7 linked regions of the Homo sapiens genome follow. The protein of the gene in region 3 purifies or fractionates together with the protein of the main gene of each other region. This does not show direct contact. Each region holds a gene or a part of one and is shown on either strand. Other genes may lie near its edges. The genes, in order: PTGES3, PKM, PPID, MOB2, PSAT1, GPALPP1 and GNPDA2.

Region 1 (3,500 bases), on a different chromosome or scaffold from region 3:
CTGGGACTGTAGGGGCATGCCACAACACCTGGCTAATTTTTGTATTTTTTGTAGAAAGGGGTATCACAGTGTTGCCCAGCTTGGTCTTGAACTTCTGGGCTCAAGCAGTCTCCCCACCTCAGCCTCCCAAAGTGCTGGGACTACAGGCATGAGCCACGACACCAGCCTAGTCTTTTTTTTTAGGTAGTCTCATGCCACTCATGCCAGAGTGCACTGGTGTGAACATGGCTCACTGTAGCCTCCACCTGGGCTTAAGCGATCCTCCCACCCACCTCACCTCTCCAAATAGCTAGGATTGTAGGAATGTGCCACCACGCCCAGGAAATTTGTTTTTTTGTTTTTTCCCCAGATACAGGATCCACTATTGCTCAGGCTGTCTCGAACTCCTGAAGGATTACACAACTAGTCTTTCCACCTTGGCCACCCAAAGTGTTGGGGTTACAGGTGTGAGCCACCTCATTTAGCTTAGTCTATTCTTTGTGTGCTAATTACATGCCCTCCTAAAAATACAAAGTCACAGTTCAAAAAATATTGTTTTGCCAGGCACCAGTAGCATGTGCCTGTTGTAGTTAAAAGCTACTCTGGAGGGTGAAGTGGGAGAAATACTTGCGCCCAAGTCTGGGTTGCATTGCCATATGTCAGGTAACCACGCTAAGTTAACATCAGTACGGTGTTGTCCCAGGAAGCGGGGACCACCAGGTTGCCTGAAGAGGGTAAACAAGACCCTTGGTCAGAAACGGAGCTGGTCAAAACTCACATATTGATCAATAGTGGGATTGCACCTGTGAATGCTTGCTGCACTCCAGCCTGGGCAACATAGCAAGACCTGGTCTCTTTAGAAGAAAAGAAAACGTAGTCTTAAGGTTCATGCCAAATGCAAATTAGCCTAATCTTAGGGTGATATTTGTATTGATTTATAGCTTAATTGGCTTAGTGTCGACTTCAATAATTGGAAAGACTGGGAAGATGATTCAGATGAAGACATGTCTAATTTTGATCGTTTCTCTGAGGTAAGTTCCTTTAAATGGACCTCTCCCCATTCGAAGCACACGGTACCTGTCTATGTAGTCAATTTAATATGGTTTTGGGCACCTAATGGTATTCATGATGCATGTTATTTTATTTTTAAGACCATTTTGCAGTCATAGTAAATAGATGTTAACAATGGCAATTTTAATCCTGAAGTTGAACCATTTTAATGATTTTAAAAGGAATTAGTGTTAGCTACAAAAGTTACAAAAGTTAATGCATTAAGACAAACTAACACAGCTAGTTTGCTAATTTCATCATTGGGACTTTTTTTTTTTTTTTTTTTAAAGCATGATTGCAGTAGTTGACTTGGATTTTGAAGTCATAAAATAAGACTATAAACTTTTGGCCGGGCACGGTGCTCACACCTGTAATCCCAGCACTTTGGGAGGCCAAGGCTGGCAGATCACGAGGTCAGGAGATCTAGATCATACGGGCCAACTTGGTGAAACCTCATCTCTACTAAAATACAAAAAAAATTAGCTGGGCATGGTGGCGCGCACCTGTGGTCCCACCTACTCCTGAGGCTGAAACGGGAATTGCTTGAACGCTGGAGGCAGAGGATGCAGTGAGCCGAGATCGTGCCACTGGACTCCAGCCTGGCGAAAGAGCGGGACTCGGTCAAATAAATAAATAAATGCAGAACGATAAACTGTTAAACACAAGAATCATAGGCTGGGCGCGGTGGCTCACGCCTGTAATCCCAGCACTTTGGGAGGCTGAGATGGGCGGATCACCTGAGGTCAGGAGTTCAAGACCAGCCTGACCAACATGGTGAAACCCCGTCTCTACTAAAATACAAAAATTAGCCGGGTGCAGTGGCGGGCGCCTGTAATCTCAGCTACTCAGAAGGCTGAGGCAGGAGAATCGCGTGAACCCAGAAGGCGTGAACAAAATTAGCTGGGCGTAGTGGTGCATGCCTGTGATTCCAGCTACTCGGGAGGCCGAGGCAGGAAAATCACTTGAACCCGGGAGGTGGAGGTTGCGGTGAGCCGAGATCGCTATTGCACTCCAGTCTGGGCAACAAGAGCAAAACGCCGTCTCTAAATTAATAAATAATTAAATAAAACTACAAAAAAATAGCTAGGCGTGGTAGTGCACGCCTGTAATCCCAGCTACTCCGGAGGCTAAGGCAGGAGAATTGCTTGAACCCAGGAGGTAGAGGTTGCAGTGAGCCGAGATCACACCACTGCACTCCAGCCTGGGCGACAGAGCAAGACTCTGTCTCCAAAAAAAAAAAAAAAAAAATTCATGGTGAAATGTTTACCATGAGATATACAAGGAAAAAAGTTTAAGAAAGTCTGTTTTCTAAGATGTCACCCAAATAACGTTGCCATGGCCCAAGAATAAATGATTCATCTCTATATAGGCAGAATAGACTTTATCAAATGTAGTAGAATAAAACTAAGTACAGAAAGAACATTAGTGTATAAGTCGAATGCATACTGATGAAATCCATTTCTTGTTGCTATTTGAAATTTTTCATTAACTAGATTTTGTATTTTGAGACCTTAAGAGTTAAATAAAAGGAGCTAAGTTTCCAGCTTTATGCAACTGCTTATTTAACAGTTCTCCACACGTGACTCTGGCATGGTGATTTCAACAGGAAGGGAGGATGTTCTATTCATATTATTTTTTAATTGTACTTTCCTTACCTGTAGAAATCGGTGCCACCATTTACCTAGCTGTGCAAGCCATTGTGTTGCTTAGGCAGGTCTTGAACTCCTGAGCTCAAGTGATCCTCCTGCCTCAGCTTCCCAAAGTGCTGGGACTACAGGCCTGAGCCACCACCCCCAGCCTTATAACACTGTTTTTGTTTTTTGTTTTTTGTTTTATTTTGCTATCTTTGTTGTCCAGTTTTTGTTGTTATCTCTTACATATCTCTTGAATATGTACAGTTTTCTCTTGCTGTTTATCTTAAGCACGTAGCGTTATGCTTGGTACATTTAGCATTTTTCCTGCCCAAAGAAACTTAAAGTATTGAGTAGTGCTTTTGGAGGTAGGGAAACTCCCAGTTACTCATTTCATTCAAGATAGATTGCCCAAAATTTTTATACTGAATCCTTTTTTGTGTGTGTTTAATTAATTGAGGTAAGAGCACTTCACATGAAATCTACTCTTTTAACAGACTATTTATTTATTTTTTTGAGGCAGAGTTTTGCTCTTGTTGCCCAGGATGTAGTGCAATGGCACGATCTTGGCTCACTCCAGCCTCCACCTCCTGGGTTCAAGCAATTCTCCTGCCTCAGCCTCCCAAGTAGCTGGGATTACGGGTGCCCACCACCATGCCCGGCTAATTTTTGTATTTTTAGTGGAGACAGGGTTTCACCATGTTGGGCAGGCTAGCCTCGAACTCCTGACCTCAGGTGATCCACCCGCCTTGGCCTCCCAAAGTTCTGGGATTACAGGCATGAGTCACCAGACCTGGCCACGCCCAGCTATCTTTTAAGTGCATGATACAGTATTGTTAA
Region 2 (3,500 bases), on a different chromosome or scaffold from region 3:
TCTTGAACTCATTTCTCAGTTACTGACTTGAGCCAAAATGTATGGATGTTGGTCTCCTGTCTAGCACAACTGCTTTCATTTTAAGCATTGCATTAGAAATAATGTTGTATTCATATTTTAGCAAAGAGCATCATTAGCTCTTTAAGAACCGTACCCCCAGTGACTTAGCAAATTTGGTGGCGGTGACTCTAAACAGCTAGCACTTTATGGGAGTTGCTTCTGTGCCTTGAATGTTGTGACACTGATGTGGGGTCACAGGAAAAACCATTTTATTTCCTAAAGCTGTTTATTTCTTAATATTGAGGCAATGGAAGAAATGAGGAAACGGCCGTGGGCAGGAAGGTAGAAGAAAATGCAGCACTTACATTACAAACTCACTTTACTTGGGTTTTAGTTTATTTTGCTTCAGTTTTTTGTTTTTTTTTTTTTTTTTTTTTTTTTTTTTTGAGATAGTTTTGCTCTTGTTGCCCAGTCTGGAGTGCAATGGTGTGATCTCGGCTCACTGCAACCTCCACCTCCTGGGTTCAAGCAATTCTCCTGCCTCAGCCTCCCGAAGTAGCTGGAATTACAGGCACTTGCACCACGCCCAGCTAATATTTTTGTATTTTTAGTAGAGATGGGGTTTCACCATGTTGGCCAGGCTGGTCTTGAACTCCTGACTTAGGTGATCCACCGGCCTCGGCCTCCCAAAGTGCCGGGATTACGGGCGTGAGCCACTGCACCTGGCCTGCTTCAGCTTTTATGAAGGCAAGTCAGGATGTGTTATCTTGGCCAAGAGCTAAGACTGAGACCGGAGTAGAGGAAAATGACTCATTTGACATTACCCTTCTTTCTGAATCACTCCAAAAGTCCACAGTCAAATCTCAATTAGCTGGTATAACACAAGAATGCGTTGACCCTGTGAGCAGAGTTTTATTGCATCTTCAAGGGTCTTCGTGAGATTGGTTTATTTGGTATGAGGTCTTAAGGATTTTAAGTTGTCCCTTTAAGCATCAGTTCTGATACAGATGGGAATAGAGCTAAACAACCAGATATATGAAGACCATTTTTGATACCACCATACTTGCGGGGAGCTTGCATTTTTTTACCAAGGGGCAGACTGGATAATTGAGTAATTTAAATACTTGGGACTTTGTTAAAGAAGCTGTTGGGGGAAGGTGAGCCTGGGTGAGTGGTGGAGGGTGATGTGCAGCATCTGCTGGGCCTTCCTGCCTCTTGGTATGACTGCTCAGCTCAGGAGTTGGGTGCTTTAGGGCCCCTACCATGCAGTGCGGTGAAGCCCCGCCCCTGCAGTGGTTTGTGCTTGTCTGCACGTAGGAGGGAACAAGCCGGCTGCAGTACCTTCGGTGGCCTCTGAGACTCACCTCCCCCACTTCTGTCCATAGACAAAGCTCCTGGGGAGCCCTAAGCCTCTTTCCTCATGCCAGCAAGCAGTCTTGGAAGCAGGCTGGGGCTGCAGTGGGAGAGATGCCAAGACCAGTTATTCAAGGGCAGTGAGGTTGCCAGTCCTAGCATTTCACACTGTGGACCAGCACAGCTGCTGGCTGAATACTGCAGTCAAGATTCTCTGAAGGGAGTCCTATCCCTTCCAAACATCTTCAGTTTACTTGCAGATAATGTTTCTTCATTTTTTATTTTATTTTATTTTATTTTATTTTTTTGAGACGGAGTCTCGCACCATGACCCAGGCTGGAGTGCAGTGGTGCAATCTCAGCTCACTGCAAGCTCCGCCTCCCGGGTTCATGCCATTCTCCTGCCTCAGCCTCCTGAGTAGCTGGGACTACAGGCAACCGCAACCACGCCTGGCTGATTTTTTTTGTATTTTTTAGTAGAGACGGGGTTTCACTGTGTTAGCCAGGATGGTCTCAGTCTGCTGACCTCGTGATCCACCTGTCTTGGCCTCCCAAAGTGCTGGGATTACAGGCATCAGCCACCGCGCCTGGCCATGTTTCTTCAATTTTAAACAACTGATATCTCCCTTGGCCATGAACGAAAAAGAACTGCCCATCAGTGGAGTCAGTCAGGGCACATAAGACACACTGTGTCCACCATGCCATTTCAGAGGAGATTTGATTGAGTTAAGCAGGGAAATAGAGATGTTGTAAACGTTGAAACTATCTGGGTATCCCTCTTTGGTTATTAACATTAGATGAGCAGAAAAACAAATGTCACCGATGGGCAAACATTTAAAAAGTCTGGCAGTACCAAGTGTGGAAAAAGGTGTGGAAGGCAGCAACTCAGCGTTCATTGATATAGCCACTTTGGAGAGCAATTCAGCCTTATTTAGTAAAAATAGAAATAAACATACTCCATGACCTAAGACTTCAATTTCTGGATATATAGAAACTCACACAGTACAGGGAGACATGTACTACAAGAGTATTGATTAATAGAAGAAACTTAGTTTAACGGGGAGGGAGAGTGGCCACCAGTAAGACAGTCCATAAATAAAATGGTCTGTTGTACAGTGGACTAGTGTAACAGCTTAAATGAATTAGCTAGATCCATATACCCACTGGATGGATCTTAAATGTGCTGCTGAGTGAAAAACAAGTTACTCAGTGATATATACAGTATACCACTTAGGGCATTAAGAAAACCACAATATTATAGGGTTCAGTATAGACATAGATACACTGTACATAGACTTCAGTGAACTGGAAGGATATAGAGTTCATGACAGTGATTGGGTGTCAAAATGCATGATGTGGCTGGGAGCAGTGGCTCACACCTGTAATCCCAGCACTTTGAGAGGCTGATGCAGGAGGATCACTTGAGGCCAGGAGGTCGAGACCAGCCTGGGCAACATCGCAAGATTCCCATCTCTATTTAAATAAATAAAATAGAAAAAAAAGTTTAAGATGGAGGTGGAAAGGGTTGGAGGAGCTTGGGGATGGAGAAAAAATGAACTGTATAAAATTAAAATTCTTGTTTTTGTTTTTAGAAAGTAAAGAGGGCCGGGCACAGTGGCTCATGCCTGTAATCCCAGCACTTTGGGAAGCTGAGGTGGGCGGATCACGAGGTCAGGAGATTGAGACCATCCTGGCTAACACGGTGAAACCCCGTCTGTACTAAAAATACAAAAAAAAAAAAAAAAAAAAATTAGCCGGGCCTGGTGGCGGGCGCCTGTAGTCCCAGCTACTCAGGAGGCTGAGGCAGGAGAATGGCCTGAACCTGGGAGGTGGAGCTTGCAGTGAGCTGAGATCGCGCCAGTGCACTCCAGCCTGGGCAACAGAGCGAGACTCCATCTCAAAAAAAAAAAAAAAAAGAAAAAAGAAATTAAAGAAAATACAGCTCAGCCTTTATTTGTGTTTTTTTTTTTTTCCTTTTTTTCTGAGACAGAGTTTTTCACTCTGTTGCCCGGGCTGGAGGGCAGTGGTGCGATCTCCGTTCACTGCAGCCTCCACTTCCTGGATTCAAGCAATTCTGTGTCTCAGCCACCCAAGTAGCTGGGATTACAGGTGCGCGCCTGGCTAATTTTTGTATGTTTAGTAGTGATG
Region 3 (3,500 bases):
CTCTGTCTCCCAGGTTCAAGCTATTCTCCTGCCTCAGCCTTCTGAGTAGCAGGGATTACAGGCGCGCGCTACAACACCCGGCTAATTTTTTCTGTATTTTTAATAGAGACGGGGTTTCACCATGTTGGCCAGGCTGGTCTCAAACTCCTGACCTTGTGATCCGCCCACCTCGGCCTCCCAAAGTGCTGGGATTACAGGCATGAGCCACCGCACCCAGCCTGTTAGTTGCTATCTTAAAGAAATATAAGTAAAAGGATCAGGTGATTATTAGCTGGAAAAATGTTATAATAATTTTGGGTATAGGAGCCAGGATCTGCCACTTTTTTTTTTTTTTTTTAACTTTTCTACAATGGGAAAGACAATTAGGGTAGTTTTAAAGGAGATTTTTATTATTTCAACTTTCATTTGGTGATCTTTGCTAGTTTACGTTAAGTCTTCCTATACCTGCAAAACTGTTCAGTTGGTATGTATAGTAGTACATAGTGGAATGAGGATAATAAGCCCAAAATCTTGTCTGGATTGTAGCATTAACTAGAGGCTTGGCCTTGACTTTGTTACTTAACTTTTCCACACGTGTTTTCTCCTGTCTAAATTACTTATGGGTTTAGACTAGATTATCTCTGAAGACCCTTGTGTACTTAATGTCTGTGAATCAAAATGACCTTAATATTGGCTGGGCATGGTAGCTCATGCTTGTAATCCCAGCACTTTGGGAGGCTGAGGTGGGAGGATCACTTGAGACCAGGAGTTGGAAACCAGCTTTGGCAACATAGTGAGATGCTGTCTCTATTAAAAAAAAAAGAAAAAAAGAAAAACCCCTAAACGACCATAATACTACCCAGCCTAAGTGACAGGGTTGTGAGTGGGAGTTGGAAGCTCAGTTACTTGTAGGAGGTAGGCTGTCACTCAGTGTATGACAAGAATAGTAGTAAACCGGAAGCTCATGCCCCACCTAATGCCACTTACATAGACAATGATAAAATTGCCAACTTATTCTGTGTTTATTGAGCTCCTGAATAGCAATAAAATGCTTATGTAAATACTAACATTGTCGTATTAGTTGGAATGTATAAAAACAGCATTATAGTACATAAATGAGCCTTCTCACATAAATCTGTGAATTGGACAGTGCTGCACATGACTTCAGCTGTATAGCTTTTATCTCTCATTATTACGATAGTGCACTTCTACAATTTAGGGTTATTTTTACAGTTGTGCGTTATTGCAGAATGTGGAGAATTGAAGGAAGGAGATGACGGGGGAATATTCCCAAAAGATGGCTCTGGCGACAGTCATCCAGATTTCCCTGAGGATGCGGATATAGATTTAAAAGATGTGAGTACTTTCAGATTAGTCAAACTTTAATTAATTTAGTAAGTGAAAATATTTAGTACTAAAAGTTTGAGCTTTTGTTTCAGTCTCTCATATGATAGAATCTAGCATTAAACCACATTACTTACTAAAATCCAACATATTTGTATTTTTTTATACAGGTAGATAAAATTTTATTAATAACAGAAGACTTAAAAAACATTGGAAATACTTTTTTCAAATCCCAGAACTGGGAGATGGCTATTAAAAAATATGCAGAAGTTTTAAGGTAATATTATTTCTAACAAATTATTTTTAAGAAATTATAAATTGAATTATAAACTAAAATTAAGAATTGCTCATTATATTTTTGCAAATTACTTGTGGAATAACCAGGTGTGTTGAAATAGTTGCATTTCCTTTTTTTTCCCCTCAGCTTGTTTTGAGAAATTTCAAAAGACAGAAGTTGAACGAGTAGTACATAATTACTCATAAGTTTTACTTACATTCACCAATTTTTAACTTTTGCTGTTTACGTTTTTACAGAACTATTTTGATAGGAAGTTGTTGATACTGTGATACTTTACCCTAAGTATTTCAGCACGTATTTCCTAAGAAACAAAGACATTCTGCATAAGTTCAATACCGTTAAAACACCCCAAAGTAATATTGATAGATAATATCAATCCATATTTAGGCTGGGCATAGTGGCTCATGCCTATAATCCCAGCACTTTGGGAGGCCAAGCTGGGCGGATCACCTGAGGTCGGGAGTTCGAGACCAGCCTGGCCAATATGGTGAAACCCCATCTCTACTAAAAATACAAAAATTAGCTGGGCTGGTGGCGCACGCCTGTAATCCCAGCTACTTGGGAGGCTGAGGCACAAGAATTACTTGAACCCAGGAGGTGGAGGTTGCAGCAAGCCGAGATTATGCCACTGCACTCCAGCCTGGGCGACAGAGTGAGATTCTGTCTCAAAAAAAAAAAAAAAAGTAATCCATATTCCAACTTCCCCAGTTGTTTCAATTTCTTAGAAAAATCAAGGGTCCAAACTAAGATTATGTGTTATATTTAGTGGTAGTATCTCTTACGTTTCCTACCTCCCCTGGTTTTTTATTCATTTGCATTTTTGTGGAGTCCAAGTCAGTTGTTTTTATAGACTTTCATCTGTATGTGTTTGTTTCCTTAAGATTAGTTTGAGGTGAAATATTTTGGCAAGAAGACTTAGGTGTTGTTTTGTATTACCTATGATATCACATCCTGAAGACACATTTCGCTTTGGCCTGTTTGAGTTCACACACATGGTTAAAGTAGTGTCAGCCACAAGCATTTGTTAGTCTGAGGTGGTATCGTGAAATTGTATGAATTTCTAGTCCCCAACAACTTTTCACACAGTGGATCTTAGCATCATTGAAAATCCATGCCTGAATCTGTTATACTGAACTTCTAAGTTTATCATCGTACAGTTATTAACTAGCATTCTTCTGTTTGCAAGAGCCTCCCGCATATTTTTTAAGTATCACTATAGACCTGTGGATATTTTTCTTTTCTTTTTTTTTCCTTTTATAGAAACAAGGCCTCCTTTATATTGCCCAGGCTGGTCTGGAACTTTTGGGCCCAAGCAATCCTCCCTCCTCACCTTCCCAAGTAGCAGGGACTAGAGGATATCTTATGGGTAGTTTTCAATTCCGTTTGTTAGTACGCTATTATTGTCATTCTTTTTCATGCCCAAAGGGTTCCAAATTTGTTCAGTGGAAGGCCCCTTTCCTTTGGCATGTTCCTATTAGTCTGCGAGCACTTGCTTGCTCTAAGCTCATCTTACCTTACTTTCACATCTGATATGGCAGTTTCTCCAAGGACCTCTGATTTCTTTTAGAGAAAGAAAACTTTAGAAACCAAATTCTGGGGGCCAGGTGTGCTCAGTTTTGGGGCCCTTTTCAGGGACAATGCAAAATCAACACAATAGAGTTCTCCTTCATCTTTCCTCTACTGAATTCCCTTCTCCTATTATGAGAATCCTGGTTCCAAACATAATTATGTTGGAAAGTACATAGTGGGGACCTGAGTTTTAAAAATAGAAAAGTGTTACTAGTGCATAATTAGATTTGGGAATTGCTCTTAAATTGGCCTCTTTGAACACTTTGGGGAACAAAAACAATTTTTTTTAAGCCTTCTTAAAAATTTTAAA
Region 4 (3,500 bases), on a different chromosome or scaffold from region 3:
ACATGCTGTATTTTCCTGTGTACAGTTTGTTAAAGTTTTTTTGTTGAGGCATCCTCTCGGACCCATGGACTACTCAGAATTGTATTAGTCTGCAAGTGTTTGGAGACTTTCCTGTTCTCTGTTACTGATTTCTAATTTAACCCCACCATGGTCAGAAAACTTACTTCGTATGGTTTTGATTTTTTAAAATTTGTTAAGGGCTCTTTTGTGACAGGTATGCTCCATCTTGGTGGCTAATCTTTGTGAAGTTGAAAAGATGGGTGTTCTGCTGTTGAGGCTGCAGTGCATGTGTCATTTCAATCCAACCCACGGGTGGGGTCATCGGGCTCCGTGCTCTCGCTGACTGTCTATGAGGCTCCATCACTGAGGAGAGGGCTGCAATCCCCGGCGATCATGTGATTTCTACACAGGCCGTCCGTTTGCTTTGTGTGGAAAGCCCTGTTGTCTGGCGCACACACATTTATGGCAGGATTTCTTCAAGAGCTGCTCCTTTTCTAATTAGATAACCTTCTTATTCCTGGTCACTTCCTTCCTCGGAGTCTCCTTTGGCACTGACATAGCCACTTCCGCTTCCTTCTGATGGGTGTTTTCTCAGCACATCTTGTCCTCTTACTTCTCACCCGCCTGCACCACAGCACCTAGAGTGGTGTGACACACAGGGTGCTTATGCCCCACATTCCTATGTTGAAAGCTTAACCCCAGACGCAAGGGTATCTGGAGATGGGGCCTTTGGGAGGCGATGAGGTTGCAAGGGTAGAACGCTCATGAACAGAACTGGTGGCTCCGTCGCCCTGCCTTCCTTCCAGCAAGAAGGTGCTGTCTGTGGACCAGGAAAGGGACCCTCACCAGACACTGAATCTGGCTAATCAGATCCAGTGACGTGGTCAGTGCCCCCTTCCTGGTCCACAGTGGATCTTCACCTTGGACTTTCAGCTTCCAGAACCGCAAGAAATAAGATTCTGTTGTTCACAAGCCACCTAGCCTATCATGTTTCGTGACAGCATCCCGAATGAAATACAACAAATGAGCTTCTTGTAAACACCAGAGAGTTGGTTATTTTAAAAATACATTCTCATAAGCTGCCCAGTCCCGTCTGTTCATCTGTTAGCATTTAGGTTTTCCACTATTTGCTGTTTGTTGCCTCTGTTTCTCATTCCTTATGGTATTTCTTCTTTCCTGCTTTCTCTTGGGCCACTGAAATGTTTTTGTATTTCATTTAAATTTACCTATTCTGATTCTGACTGCGTCTCTTCACATAAGCTCTGCAAGGCCTGCTCAAAGGGCTGTAACACGCAACTCAACCCCACATGCTCTCCATGGCACCCACACATGTGCTTCCACTGGAGCATAGCAGCTCTCTTGCCCACAGCCCCACCGCCGCCAGGCCCCACAGCCGCCACAGCCCCACCGCCACCACAGGCCCCACGGCCGCCCTGGAAATGGCACTGCACAGGCCCCACGGCCGCCCTGGGAACGGCACTGCACAGGCACTGCCGGACACTACTCTTGTCTTCTTGCACCATCACTGGCGTCTCCACAAACACTCAGTGGGAGGAGGCCCTCCTGTTGGGAGAACTCTGCAGGGAGCCTCTGGAACAGGTCTGCTGGCTGTGAGGGCTCTTGGTTTTGAGTGACTTTGGACACTGACTGGATGTGGAATTCTGGGATGACCTTTCTTTTCTCCCAGCACTGGAAGATGTGTGGGGCTTCCTTCTTCCTTCTGGCCTCCTGGGTTTCTAAAAGTGCCACGGTCATTCACTGCGGCATCTGTTGTCAGTACCAGGCCACCGCCGTCTGACTGCTGACAGAGGATGGCTGCCAAGGGCTTTTTCTTTGCCCCCAGTTCTCAGCATTTGGTTGCATGCATCTGCACGTGTCTGTGAGCCTTATTTGGGGTTTGCTTAGCTTCTTAAGTCTGCAGGTTTGTGTCTTTGTGGGAAGTTCTCAGCCATTATTGCTGCAATGTGTTTCCGGCCCCGCCCCCTTTCTCGTCTCCCTAGGAGTCAGACATCAGCCTTTTTGGGACTGTCCTACAGGCCCTAGCAGGGAGGAGACGCGCCTCAATCCCAGAGCCCTCACACGACCCAGGCAGACTTGCTGGTCTTTTGGGTGGCAAGTGGCCCTGAGGCCCTCTGAGAAGTCTCCATGTTTCTCTTAGTTTGAGTGGATTTCTGTCCCTTGGTTTGAAAGGATTCCTGGAAAGGCATTACATGCAATTAATTCACACACATCTACTACCACCATGATGCCAGCTCCAGATGAGAAGGACCAAGAGGCAAATCTGGGTGGCCTAGGCCCTCCAAGGGGACATAGGTCTGCCCAACACCACATCCTACACTCCTCCAAGGACCCCTTTTCCAAACCAACCCAGTACCACAGAACATGCAGGAGCAGAGCCTCTGGGAAGGGTGCCAGGCCCCGTCTGCCCAGGAGCAGAGGCGCTGAGCCAGCACTTGGCCACAGGTGGCTCCAGAGCCACAGTGGACACAAGGCTCTCGAGTAGCTCTCGGGTGCTGCCCTGCCACCTCAGGACCCATCTCCATGCCTGATCCATGGAGGCCACCGCCGTCTCACATTGAGCTTGCTCCCCTCAAAGCCATAAGCACTGTCCCCATCTTCCTGGGCCATGCCTGGCTGTGACACCTCATTTTCCTGGGGAATTAAGACAGTGAAGCCAGCTGTTGTCTGTACCTGCCCCGGTGTCACCCATAACCAAACCAAGCTGTGACCCATCATGGCCATGAGGGCAGGGCCCAGCAGGACTGAAGCCAAGGGGACGCCTGCCAGCTGCCTGTGCAGAAGCTCCCCTTGGCTTCTTGAAGGCAGAACTCAGCTTTGTCTGGGGACCACGTCTCCCTGTGCCAGGGCCAGGAAAGCCATGTCTGTGGGCAGGATGACTTTCAGGACGCACTCACAGGCACACATTCTGTCCCTGACCTGTGTGCACTGACAACAACGGGACATCAGGGAAAAGCTTCCGCCCTCCTCAGCCGCACATGTCCCAGGCTAAGCCCAGCAGACCCAGCCTCCTCCTGCCTGCAGCCTCCAAGGCTGCTTTCAGCAACCCAGGCCTGGCGGCGCTCCTTCCCATGCTACGCAAGTGAGGTGCTCAGGGCCACTAACGGACACCCATTTACTGAGGAAATCAGGGTGCAGTGCTTCCAGGAGAGAGCTACCAGCACCAGGCATGTTGGATGGTCACGGAGAAGGTAACTGAGCCCCCATGAAATGAATGGCCGAGCAAGGACCTGTGGCCTGCCCAGCCCAGCCCTCACTGTCCCATCCAGAGCTGTCACGGGAGCCAGCGGAGAAGGGCTCTCTGCAATCTTAGGGCATTCCTTCTGGAAACGTCTCTGTCCCTAGAAACATAGCCCATCAACCCCCACCAGCTCCTGCACCTTCTGGGCCCCACTGGGGACCTGGGTAGCTGGGCCACTGGCCCAGCCTGTGGCCTTTCCACAGGAAGGTGGATGTTGTGGAAGGCCTGTGCCAAGACTTCT
Region 5 (3,500 bases), on a different chromosome or scaffold from region 3:
CCAGCTGCTAAGAACCTCATGGCCAGAGTCTCCTAAGACCTGCTGGTTGCTTGCTATCCTACTAAGCACTGAATATAGGCCATACATCTTTCAGGACAAGATATTTACACTCCTACCACCCCATTCCCCAAGACCCTGCCACATTGCCCTGCCCTTTATTAATTTACCTCTGTATCTTTGCTGGAGCTCTGTTCCCTGGCCATCTGGCTTCCGTACACCTATTCCCAGGCTCTGACCTTACTCAGTGGCTTGGGTCCAGTTTCCATGGCCTTGTCCTTTTGGAGCTGGGCTTATTTCTACTGCCTGTAGCCATTCTCATCATTATCTTACTTTTTCATCCTGGAGTCAAAGAATTTTGCTTTTTATTTTGATGTATAATAGATACATGATTTCATGGGTAGGCCTAAAACATTATCGAAACCCCCTGCCCAACATCCACCTGGTTCATAGCATGTTGCATAACACAGGATTATTGGTTGCAAGTTATAGGACCCCCAACTCACTGGCTTAAGTAAAAAAGAAATGTATTATCTCACCTAACAGATAAATGCAGGAGAATTTAGGTGCTTCTAAATGACTGCAGGAAGGTGATTTTCCCCCATCTTCTGGCTCTGCTTTCTTATGTGTTCTCTTCATTGGGTGGCCACCATTGGTTGCAGGATTAGCTCCTACAAGTTTCTTCTTTCCCTCAATAGAAACAGCTTTCCTTACCTAGAAGTTTGAGTAAAGGTCTCAGTACCAAATTCCATTGGCCAGCCTGGGGCAGGTACTCATCCCCTTGAGCCAGGGTTGACCACAGTTGAACCATGTCGACTGAGAGTGGCAGAGGGGTAATTTCCTAAAGGAACATCAGGCTGTTGTCACTAAGAAGAGGAGGAAGAGCTTCAGGTCAAACAGTAACCCTAGGCTTTCAACACAGTCTCCAGTAAATAGTTGTCCAAGGATTGCATAAATAAATGAGTGAATTAGGGAAGACAAAGTAGTATTGTAACATTACCATATTTCTTGTAGTAAATCCACCCAAGTTAAAGCACTTGGTAGAGCATCACTTGTTCTCAATCTTTGACCACATGAGTTTATGTATTGACTGTTACCTATGCTTCTGCCCAGAGCTGTTCCAGACAACTATAAGGTGATTTTTCTGCAAGGAGGTGGGTGCGGCCAGTTCAGTGCTGTCCCCTTAAACCTCATTGGCTTGAAAGCAGGAAGGTGTGCTGACTATGTGGTGACAGGAGCTTGGTCAGCTAAGGCCGCAGAAGAAGCCAAGAAGTTTGGGACTATAAATATCGTTCACCCTAAACTTGGGAGTTATACAAGTAAGTTCTGGGAGCTGAGCTGGGTGGTGACGTGCTCAATGGTGGGTTACCCCGACCCAGGGCAATCTGTAGTTTTCAATTATTTTCTCCCCTTGACAGTGTTAGTTCATTACCATTTAGATTGGGTGGCTGTACTAGCTAAGACTAGAGCCTATGCATACTCTTACTTTATTTTATTTTCTATTTTTTTTCTAGACAGAGTTTTGCTTTGTCACCCAGGCTGGAGTGCAGTGGTGCAATCTCAGCTCACTGCAACCTCCGCCTCCCAGGTTCAGGCGATTCTCCTGCCTCAGCCTCCCAAGTAGCTGGGATTACAGGTGCTGGCCACCACGCCTGGCTAATTTTTGTATTTTTAGTAGAGACAGAGTTTAACCATGTTGGCCAGGCTGCTTTTGAACTCCTGACCTCAGGTGATCCGCCTGCCTCGGCCTCCCAGAGTGCTGGGATTACAGGCGTGAGCCACTGTGCCTGGCCTATGCATACTCTTCTTGCAGAAGCTAGTCAGTAGTTAGTAGTAGTTTTTCAGCTAATTAGCTGAAAAAGTCCAGGGGCTGGTTTGGCTTTAGATATGGCTTGATCAGGGGCCCCAACAATGTCTCCAGGACCTGGTGGCTCCACAGGCAGAAAAAGCTGTCCCTTTCTTGAAAGGTGGCTGCAGCTGCTCCTGACCTTATATTCTCCCAAGTTTCAATGCCTTTATGGAGCATTCCCAGTAACGGTCTCATGTCCTGTGCCCCATTCTGAATCAGTCCCTGTGGCCATGCCTGAGTTGCATTCTACCTCTGGGCTGTAGGTTTCATTGGCTCCCCTGGAACTACGTGGGCTGAGAGTAGGTGAGGGCTGGGGTTCCAAGAAGAAACTACTAGTCCATCAATGGATGTAGGATAGATGGATACTGGGCGACAAGTAAAAACTCAGATATCTCCCATGCCTTTTGAAAAAATTTACTTTATTTTATTTTGTTGAGACAGAGTCTTTCTGTGTTGCCCGGGTTGGAGTACAGTGGCTCTTCACAGGCAGGATCATAGCACACTGTAGCCTCCAGCTCCTGGGCTCAAGTGATCCTCCCACCTTAGCCTCCTAAATATCTGGGACTATGGGCACATACCACCATGCCCACCTTCCCATGCCATTTTTGAAGATGATTTGTTCCCAGTAAAAGTCGAAAGGTTGGATCGCTCATCCTCTCAGGATGTTGATAACGATGGTAACAAAGGATGAGGCTGGGAGGTTGCTTTCACTCGTGCAATGCTTTGGAGTCAGTTAGTCTTTCCCTGCTAGGGGAGGCCTGTCAGTCTCCTGGTTGACTCCCATCTATGTAAGGAAAGAGGAGAGTGAAAAGTGCAAAGTCTCAAACTTGTCTTCTGTGATAGAAATTCCAGATCCAAGCACCTGGAACCTCAACCCAGATGCCTCCTACGTGTATTATTGCGCAAATGAGACGGTGCATGGTGTGGAGTTTGACTTTATACCCGATGTCAAGGGAGCAGTACTGGTTTGTGACATGTCCTCAAACTTCCTGTCCAAGCCAGTGGATGTTTCCAAGGTAGAGTATAAAAGGCAGGGTGAGGGGAACCCACTGACTCGGTGTCTGCAGGGACATTTTAATATATACAAGAGCGGGAAGAACCATGGGTGTTTGAGGCCTGCAGAACCCCTGAGCCAGTGCAGCTGCCAGTGAGCAGGCTGCCAGGTGCGAATTCCCAGCTGTTGCAGTGCCTGAGTCCTGCTGTTCCCAGCCTCGTGGTGATGTTTGCCTCACAGGGTCCCACTCGAGTCCTTGGGGAACTACCTGCTTTTGAGAGTGGTTCTTAGAAACGTGTTTGGTCAACAGACGGGGAGAGACTTGTCTTCAAGAGCAGATGCAGATTATCCCGAGCCCAGGGGACCTATGTGAGGGAGCTTCCCCTTGCCTGGTACCCACCTCCAAAAGCATCAACAGGATACCGTTTTATGAGTGGCTTGCCAAGGCAGGGCAGTGGGACTGGCGCTGTAGGTACATGCCCCAGGGTGCGATGCGGGTAGAGAATCTAAGAACAACAGTTGAACTGACTGAGTGGTATTCTGCCTTTTTAATTGGGATAAAATATAACAAATTTTACCATTTAATATAAAATATACCATTTTAACCATTTTTAAATATACTGGTCAGTGGCATTGAGAGCATTCACATTGTTGTGCAGG
Region 6 (3,500 bases), on a different chromosome or scaffold from region 3:
TAGGGGGTCTGTATTGTGGCGTATACTGACTGACACTTTTAATATTCTTCTCTTTTTTCTTGAGACAGAGTCTCACTCTGTCACCAGACTGGAGTGCAGTGGCGTGATCTTGGCTCACAGCAACCTCCGCCTCCCGGGTTCAAGTGATTCTCCTGCCTCAGCCTCCTGAGTAGCTGGGACTACAAGCATGTGCCACCACGCCCAGCTAATTTTGGTATTTTTAGTAGAGATGGGGTTTCACCATGTTGGCCAGGATGGTCTTGATCTCTTGACCTCATGATCCGCCTGCCTTGTCCTCCCAAAGTTCTGGGATTACAAGCATGAGCCACTGCGCCTGGCCCCTTTTTTCTTTTTTATATCGCCATCTCAGTATTCTATCATTTCATGATGAAATAGTTGTTTATTTTGAACAACTCAAATAGAAATTAATGGTACTATGTGCTGAATGTTACTTTTTTATACTATTTTTCCGTGATTATTTTTAAAAGGCCAGGTTTTCTTAGATGAGTTTTATCTTCATCTGCTTATTATCTTTTTAAAAAATGTATATCTCGTTTGTTTCTTTAAAAATCCATGGCAATTTTTTAGTTGTAATAGCACCAGGTGTGGTGGCTCATGCCTGTAATCCCAGTGCTTTGGGAGGCCAAGGCAGGAAGATCACTTGAGGCCAAGCGTTCAAGACCAAGCTGGACAACATAGTGAGACCCTGGTCTCAAAAAAATAAATAAAATAAAATTTAAAAATTATCTGTGCATGGTGGCAAACACCTGTAGTCCTAGCCATGCAGGAGGCCGAGATGGGAGGATCGCTTGAGGCCAGGAGTTCAAGGTTACAGTGAGCCATGATCACTGCTTTCTAACCCAGGCAACAGAGCAAGACTAAATAAATAAATGAGTGAATGAATACATAAATAAAAGGTATGTGTGTACGTTATAATACCAAGAACAGCACATATTTAGACCATATTACACATCTAATTGCTTAAAATATATAAAAGAATAATAAAATTTTTTCTTGATACAAACCTATCCAAAATTGGCCAATAGTATACAATTGATAAATTACATGGATAGCAGTCACATATAAGAAGAGAAAGAAGCAGAAGAGGAAAAAACATATCTTCCCTCTTTAATGTACTTAGAATCAAGAAGATGAAAAGAGCCAATCACTCCTGTGGGGTCACACATGAGGTTAGAGGTCACATATAGTCTCTAAATTATAAATAAATTGGGGAACACTTACATACTAAGACATTAAGTCTTCTTTAGTAAACCCTAAACAGCAGTTGGAGATAGGAATCCCATCCATGATGCTTGATGTTTTCCTTTTTGCTGTAACGCAGCATGCCTTAGAGTTATTCTTTTCTAAGGCATGTTATTACCTGTTCTATAGTAATGCACCAAGAGAGATAGGAAAAATTTTTTTGAAATAGGCCAATGATTCCAAAACTAGCCTTAGTTTCTCCCCTGAGCTTTACACTGTAATAATGTTTGGCTATGTCCCCACCCAAATCTCATCTTGAATTATAGTTTCCATAATCCCTACATGTTGTGGGAGGGACCTGGTGGGAGGTAACTGAATCATGGTGGTGGTTACCCTCATGCTGTTCTCGTGATAGTGAGTTCTCATGAGATCTGATAGTTTTATAAGGGGCTTCTCCCCCTTTCTCTCTGCACTTCTCCTTCCTCCTGCCATGTGAAGAAGGATGTGTTTGCTTCCCCTTCCACCATAATTGTACGTTTCCTGAGGCCTCCACAACCATGCTGAACTGTGGCTCAATTAAACCTCTTTCCTTTATAAATTACTCAGTCTCAGGTATTTCTTCATAGCAGCATGAGAACGGACTTACACACCCTATACACCCTAGTATGCCCAAGTACCACTGATAGCACCACCTAAATTTTTAAGGCTGTATGAAACTTAAAATGTGAAAAACAAACTCTCAACTCTCCCCTCCCAGCCTATTTTCTTCCCAGCCTTCTCCATATTAGAGAATACCATTGCCCTTCACCTGCCTAGCTAGTCAGGCACAAAACCTAAGACCTATCCTTGGTTCCTTTTTTTTTTCTTCTCACCTCTAACATCCAAACCATTAGCAGTCCTCTTTGCCCTTACATCAGAGTATGTTGCAAATCAAACCTTTTTTTTTTCTTTCTTTTTTTTAGATGGAGTCTTGCTCTGTCGCACAGGCTGGAGTGCAATGGCGTGATCTTGGCTCACTGCAACCTCCACTGCCAGAATTCAAGCAATTCACCTGCCTCAGCCTCCTGAGTAGCTGGGATTACAGACGCACACCACCATGCCCAGCTAATTTTGTATTTTTAGTAGAGACAGGGTTTCACCATGTTGCCCAGGCTGGTCCCGAACTCCTGACCTCGGGTGATCCGCCCACCTCGGCCTCCCAAAGTGCTGGGATTACAGGCGTGAGCCACCACACCTGGCCCACACCATTTTTTATCAGCTTTCTAATGCATATCCCCTGTTGCTGATCTCTCTTGTCTATTGTCCACAAGCTGACAGTTTTTTGTTTGTTTGTTTGGTAATTCATATCATGTCTGTCCTGACCCACAACCTCCCAATGACTGCCTGTTGTAATTAAAATCCAAACTCCTGCTGGATGTGGTGGTGCATGCCTGTAGTCCCAGGTACTCAGGAAGCTGAGGCAAGAGGATCGCTTGAGTCCAGGAGTTCTGGGCTGTAGTGCGCTATGCATTCTGGTATCCACACTAAGTTCAACATCAGTATGGTGACCTCCGGGAGTGAAGGACCACCAGATTGCCCTAAGGAGGGGTGAACCAGCCCAGGTCGGAAACAAAGCATGTGAAAACTCTGGTGCTGATCAGCAGTGGGATCGCACCTGTGAAAAGCCACTGCACTTCAACCTGGACAACACAGTGAGATCTCGCCTCTTAGGGAAAGGGAACAGAAAAGGGAAAGGGAAAGAGAAGTCCAAACTCCTTATTGTAGCCTGTACTAGCATTTATTGAGCACTTGCTATATGCCAAAGACTTTGTTAGGTGTTTTGCATATATTAACTGATATAATCTTCACAACAGTCCTGTGAGGTTGAAACTATTATTAACCTCATTTTACAAAGCAAGAGTGTAATAGGAAGGTTAAGTAACTTATCCAAATCACACAGCTAGTAAGTGGCCAACCTGGAATTCAAAGCACAGAGTCTGCCTCCAAAGCAAGAGTCTGGCCCCTTTATACCATCCAACTTGATGTCGTCATTTTGCTTTTCTTTAGCCACACTGGCCTTTTTATTCCTCAAGCACATCAGGCTTGCTCCCTGCATAGGAGTTGTGCACTGGCTGTTCCTCTGTCATCTCATCATTTAAGTCTCCATTCAAATGTCTTTTTCTCAGAGAGATTTTTGCCTTACCACTGTCTTTAAAATTACCCTCCCACATATACAGTGTCACCTTTTTCCTATTTTCATAGTAGCATTTACACTATCTGAATTGATCTTAATTCTTTTAATGTTTGTTTCTCTAGAA
Region 7 (3,500 bases), about 110 Mb from region 3:
ATGCAACATCTGCCTGAGCACTGGTTGTCAAACATTAGTGTACATAAGAATCACCTGGTATCCACACCTAGCTTGCTTCTTTAAATTTAGGGATTCTGCAGTTTGAACAAACATAACAAATTATTCCATATAGTTTGTCCTTTCCCATGATATGAGAAATAATCTCCTTGAGAGTAGAACAGGTATGATATAACTAATCACATATCAGATCAAGTCTATTTAAAGACCAATTTGTTTTATCTATGCCTTAGCCATAGATAAACACCAATAATGAATTCTTCATCCTATACTAAGCTTCCCTTCCAGCAGCCTCCTTTCCCTCCACTCCCTTCATAATGGTAATGCCAGGTATGTACTTACCTTTTCTCACCAATAAAAGTTTAGTTGTCTTTTTTTTCCTCAGTATATATACTTCATGTTGAGATTTCTTGCCACCTGTCCCATTACCTTTTTAGAGTGTGCATCCATAATGAAAAGACTCTTAGCTCATATTGTCTAATTGTTAGAACTTTTACAAGAGGCAATGTAATGTAATTGTTAATCGCTAAGAATATGCACTGTAGAAAAAAACTACTTGTTTGTATCTTACCAAAACCTTGGGCCAGTTACAGAATATGCCTCAGTTTCCTTATCTTTAAAATATGAGTAAGAATAGTATTTCTCTCATGGTGGTGTTTTGAGGAGTTGAGGTAATTCAAGGAGAGTGCAGAGTATTTCCTCCCATTTTAGGTCTAGTTATAAAATATGTAATACAAAATTTGTTATATTTTAGAACTACAGCAATTTTAACATTGTTTTTTAAAACAATTGTAATGAGGAAAAAAAGTTTAAAGATTATATTACAAAAATATGTGTGTAGATGAGGTGTTAAATGGGATCAATTTCCAGCTTAAACATGATAAAGAAAAGATTCCGACACATACACATTCACATTTGCAACATGTCATTGCATTATTTCATTGGCATTTAGGGCCTGGGGACCAAGAGCTTGGATTTTCTGTAGCTTATAAGGGTAATATCAGTCATATGTGATTATAAGACAGTTCCTATGTGCTTATAAGACAGTTCCTATGTTTAAGTAGATCCCTAATCCTTTTTTAAATCCAGTTTTTATTCTGAGTCAACTTTGAATAGCACATGTTCAGTGAAATGCTCTTCAGGCTTTTCTTGATAACTCTTCAAATTACCTGTTGTTTTAGAGTCTTTGCTTTTCTGACATAGTATCTTTTGCTTATCTAGACTACAGCAACTTGGTGTATCATTCTAGATTGTATAAATTATTTATAGATTTGTAACTCTGCTTTTGCAACACAGTCCTTTTGTTTCTTTTTCTTCATTGTCCCAGGTTTCTTTTATACATCATCATTCACTATGTTAAAAGTTACAGGTATTATAGTGTTTGCATTAATAACCCATAACAAGATATTGTTTTGCTTTGTTAAACTAGAAGCAACATTTTGTGCTTGTTAATCTTAAAAAGTAGAAATGAATACCTTGAACTATTATGTGGAGCTATGTATTTTTCTTTCTCTCAGAAAAAAATATTGGTGCTTAAGTTCTCGTTTAAAAAAAATAGAGCTTCTTACTCATTTGGAACAAGTTTTAACAATTGATGTTCATAATTTTTCAGGTAATGATCCTTATAACAGGGGCACACAAGGCATTTGCCCTGTACAAAGCAATAGAAGAAGGAGTCAATCACATGTGGACTGTTTCCGCTTTCCAGCAGCATCCCCGGACTATTTTTGTATGCGATGAAGATGCTACTTTAGAATTAAGAGTTAAAACTGTGAAATACTTTAAAGGTGAGCACTGAATTTCAAAAGCCGACTGAGATAATCTGTTGTGAGTGACAATTAAAACTTACTGTGACTGTGGGGTTAAATCTCACACTGTGACCTATTGAAAAGTGGCAACACATAGCTAGTTCTTTCAAGTAATGGAAAGTTCTCACCTCAGATAATAGTATCTTCAAAGTAGTACCTTTTTTTTTTTTTCATGAAGAGAATCTCTTCAGTCTCTATTTTCAGTAAACAATTTTTCTTGAAATCCAAGGTTTAATAATTTACTTTCATATTGAATATACAAGACCAAATAACCCAAAAGAAAATGTATCTTTGTCCATTCTGGATTTCTTTTCATGTTTACTAGTCCCACCTCAATCCCTCTTCCTCACTCCCCTCTAACCTTAATTTAGAACCTAATCAGTGGATAAGAGATCTCCCACTATCTAATTTAATCTTTACAATTTTAAGCCAATTTATTCCCATATATTAAAGTTATAATGTCTAAATGTTAAAATAGTATGGAATAAACTCTGCAAGTAAGCAGGAGTTTGATTGCCCAGACTTCATGTTGATTTTCCTTTTTCCTGTAGTCTAGTTCAGTAATTCAGAAACCTTACTCTACCAGGCTGTGTATTACAAAACACATATGCTTGATATAATGGTTTTAAGAGATTTTCAAGGGACATTTTGCCTATACCCAATGTAGAACCTATTCTCTGATTTAAGAGTCAGCTCCACATATTACACATATGTAAGCAAACTGTACAAACAGGTAATTTTCATAAAGCACCTGTATTTACATAGCTGATATTAAAAGTTACATAGTTGATCATATAGATAGGTCAGTGATTCACTATGTAGTATGTATGCTACTTTTGCTACATGATTATACCTTTTAATCTTTTTTACTCTAGTAACTAGGTATTTATTTTAATGCCTATTGGAAAATACACTGAATAAATCAAAGCTATATTTTTTGGATATTATTGCTTAAGACAAGGTCCAAAAAAGCTACCATATTTGATTGGCTCTAATACACGTTGATCTTGCTGATGTTGGACTGTGTCTTAAAACTGGTGTCAGATCATAGCTTACTGGGTAGCATTTTTTTCTCAGTGGTACATAAAATGGTGTGTCTTACAATTTATAGCATCTCATACTCAGAAATAAAGTATATAATCTTAAATTTTTAATTCAATGCAAAGAAAACCAACTCATATTTCATGTATATGTGTGAATATGGCAAATATCTTGAAGGTGTTATACAAATAACTGACATTTGGCAAGCACTGAAAATAGTCTATTTTTAAACAAAATGCTGATCATGCTTTGTATATAGTTTTGTATTTGTACTTATGTTTCATGAGCATTTTCCTGTTTTACTAAATATTTGGAAGCATTTTAATGGATAGTTAAGTACATAAATCATAATTTATTTAAACATTTCCTTATTAACACTTAGATTATTTCTAGTCATTTATATTTTTACCATTTAAATTACTAATTTACCAAGCCACAAATATATCAAACTGAAAAACTGAAAAACTGAAAAATTTCTGATTTGTGAATAAAAGAGCATTTGATGGAGTTTTAACTCTATTTTCCCATGTAACCCTTCAGATTTCATCCCAAATAATAGATTCCTTGACTACAAGGAATCCTCACTATCCACAAATTTTAATTCCAGTTTTAAGGAGATTCATTTAACATGGC

Evidence for each region.
Region 1: the proteins of PPID (region 3) and PTGES3 purify together in Homo sapiens (affinity purification with western blotting; 2 studies listed by BioGRID and IntAct, with this or other methods). This does not show direct contact.
Region 2: the proteins of PPID (region 3) and PKM fractionate together in Homo sapiens (co-fractionation; one large-scale study listed by BioGRID). This does not show direct contact.
Region 4: the proteins of PPID (region 3) and MOB2 fractionate together in Homo sapiens (co-fractionation; one large-scale study listed by BioGRID). This does not show direct contact.
Region 5: the proteins of PPID (region 3) and PSAT1 fractionate together in Homo sapiens (co-fractionation; one large-scale study listed by BioGRID). This does not show direct contact.
Region 6: the proteins of PPID (region 3) and GPALPP1 purify together in Homo sapiens (affinity purification with mass spectrometry; one study listed by BioGRID and IntAct). This does not show direct contact.
Region 7: the proteins of PPID (region 3) and GNPDA2 fractionate together in Homo sapiens (co-fractionation; one large-scale study listed by BioGRID). This does not show direct contact.

The regions. Positions count from the first base shown.
Region 1 is NC_000012.12:56,667,785-56,671,284, reverse strand, and holds part of PTGES3 (prostaglandin E synthase 3), read left to right. Parts: intron 1-920; coding exon 921-1,010; intron 1,011-3,500. UniProt on the Homo sapiens protein: Cytosolic prostaglandin synthase that catalyzes the oxidoreduction of prostaglandin endoperoxide H2 (PGH2) to prostaglandin E2 (PGE2).
Region 2 is NC_000015.10:72,224,691-72,228,190, reverse strand, and holds part of PKM (pyruvate kinase PKM), read left to right. Parts: intron 1-3,500. UniProt on the Homo sapiens protein: Catalyzes the final rate-limiting step of glycolysis by mediating the transfer of a phosphoryl group from phosphoenolpyruvate (PEP) to ADP, generating ATP.
Region 3 is NC_000004.12:158,713,397-158,716,896, reverse strand, and holds part of PPID (peptidyl-prolyl cis-trans isomerase D), read left to right. Parts: intron 1-1,212; coding exon 1,213-1,335; intron 1,336-1,493; coding exon 1,494-1,600; intron 1,601-3,500. UniProt on the Homo sapiens protein: PPIase that catalyzes the cis-trans isomerization of proline imidic peptide bonds in oligopeptides and may therefore assist protein folding. Proposed to act as a co-chaperone in HSP90 complexes such as in unligated steroid receptors heterocomplexes.
Region 4 is NC_000011.10:1,476,780-1,480,279, forward strand, and holds part of MOB2 (MOB kinase activator 2), read right to left. Parts: intron 1-3,500. UniProt on the Homo sapiens protein: Stimulates the autophosphorylation and kinase activity of STK38 and STK38L.
Region 5 is NC_000009.12:78,303,625-78,307,124, forward strand, and holds part of PSAT1 (phosphoserine aminotransferase), read left to right. Parts: intron 1-1,110; coding exon 1,111-1,316; intron 1,317-2,689; coding exon 2,690-2,862; intron 2,863-3,500. UniProt on the Homo sapiens protein: Involved in L-serine biosynthesis via the phosphorylated pathway, a three-step pathway converting the glycolytic intermediate 3-phospho-D-glycerate into L-serine.
Region 6 is NC_000013.11:44,999,538-45,003,037, forward strand, and holds part of GPALPP1 (GPALPP motifs-containing protein 1), read left to right. Parts: intron 1-2,612; exon of another isoform or gene 2,613-2,910; intron 2,911-3,500.
Region 7 is NC_000004.12:44,706,057-44,709,556, reverse strand, and holds part of GNPDA2 (glucosamine-6-phosphate deaminase 2), read left to right. Parts: intron 1-1,630; coding exon 1,631-1,805; intron 1,806-3,500. UniProt on the Homo sapiens protein: Catalyzes the reversible conversion of alpha-D-glucosamine 6-phosphate (GlcN-6P) into beta-D-fructose 6-phosphate (Fru-6P) and ammonium ion, a regulatory reaction step in de novo uridine diphosphate-N-acetyl-alpha-D-glucosamine (UDP-GlcNAc) biosynthesis via hexosamine pathway.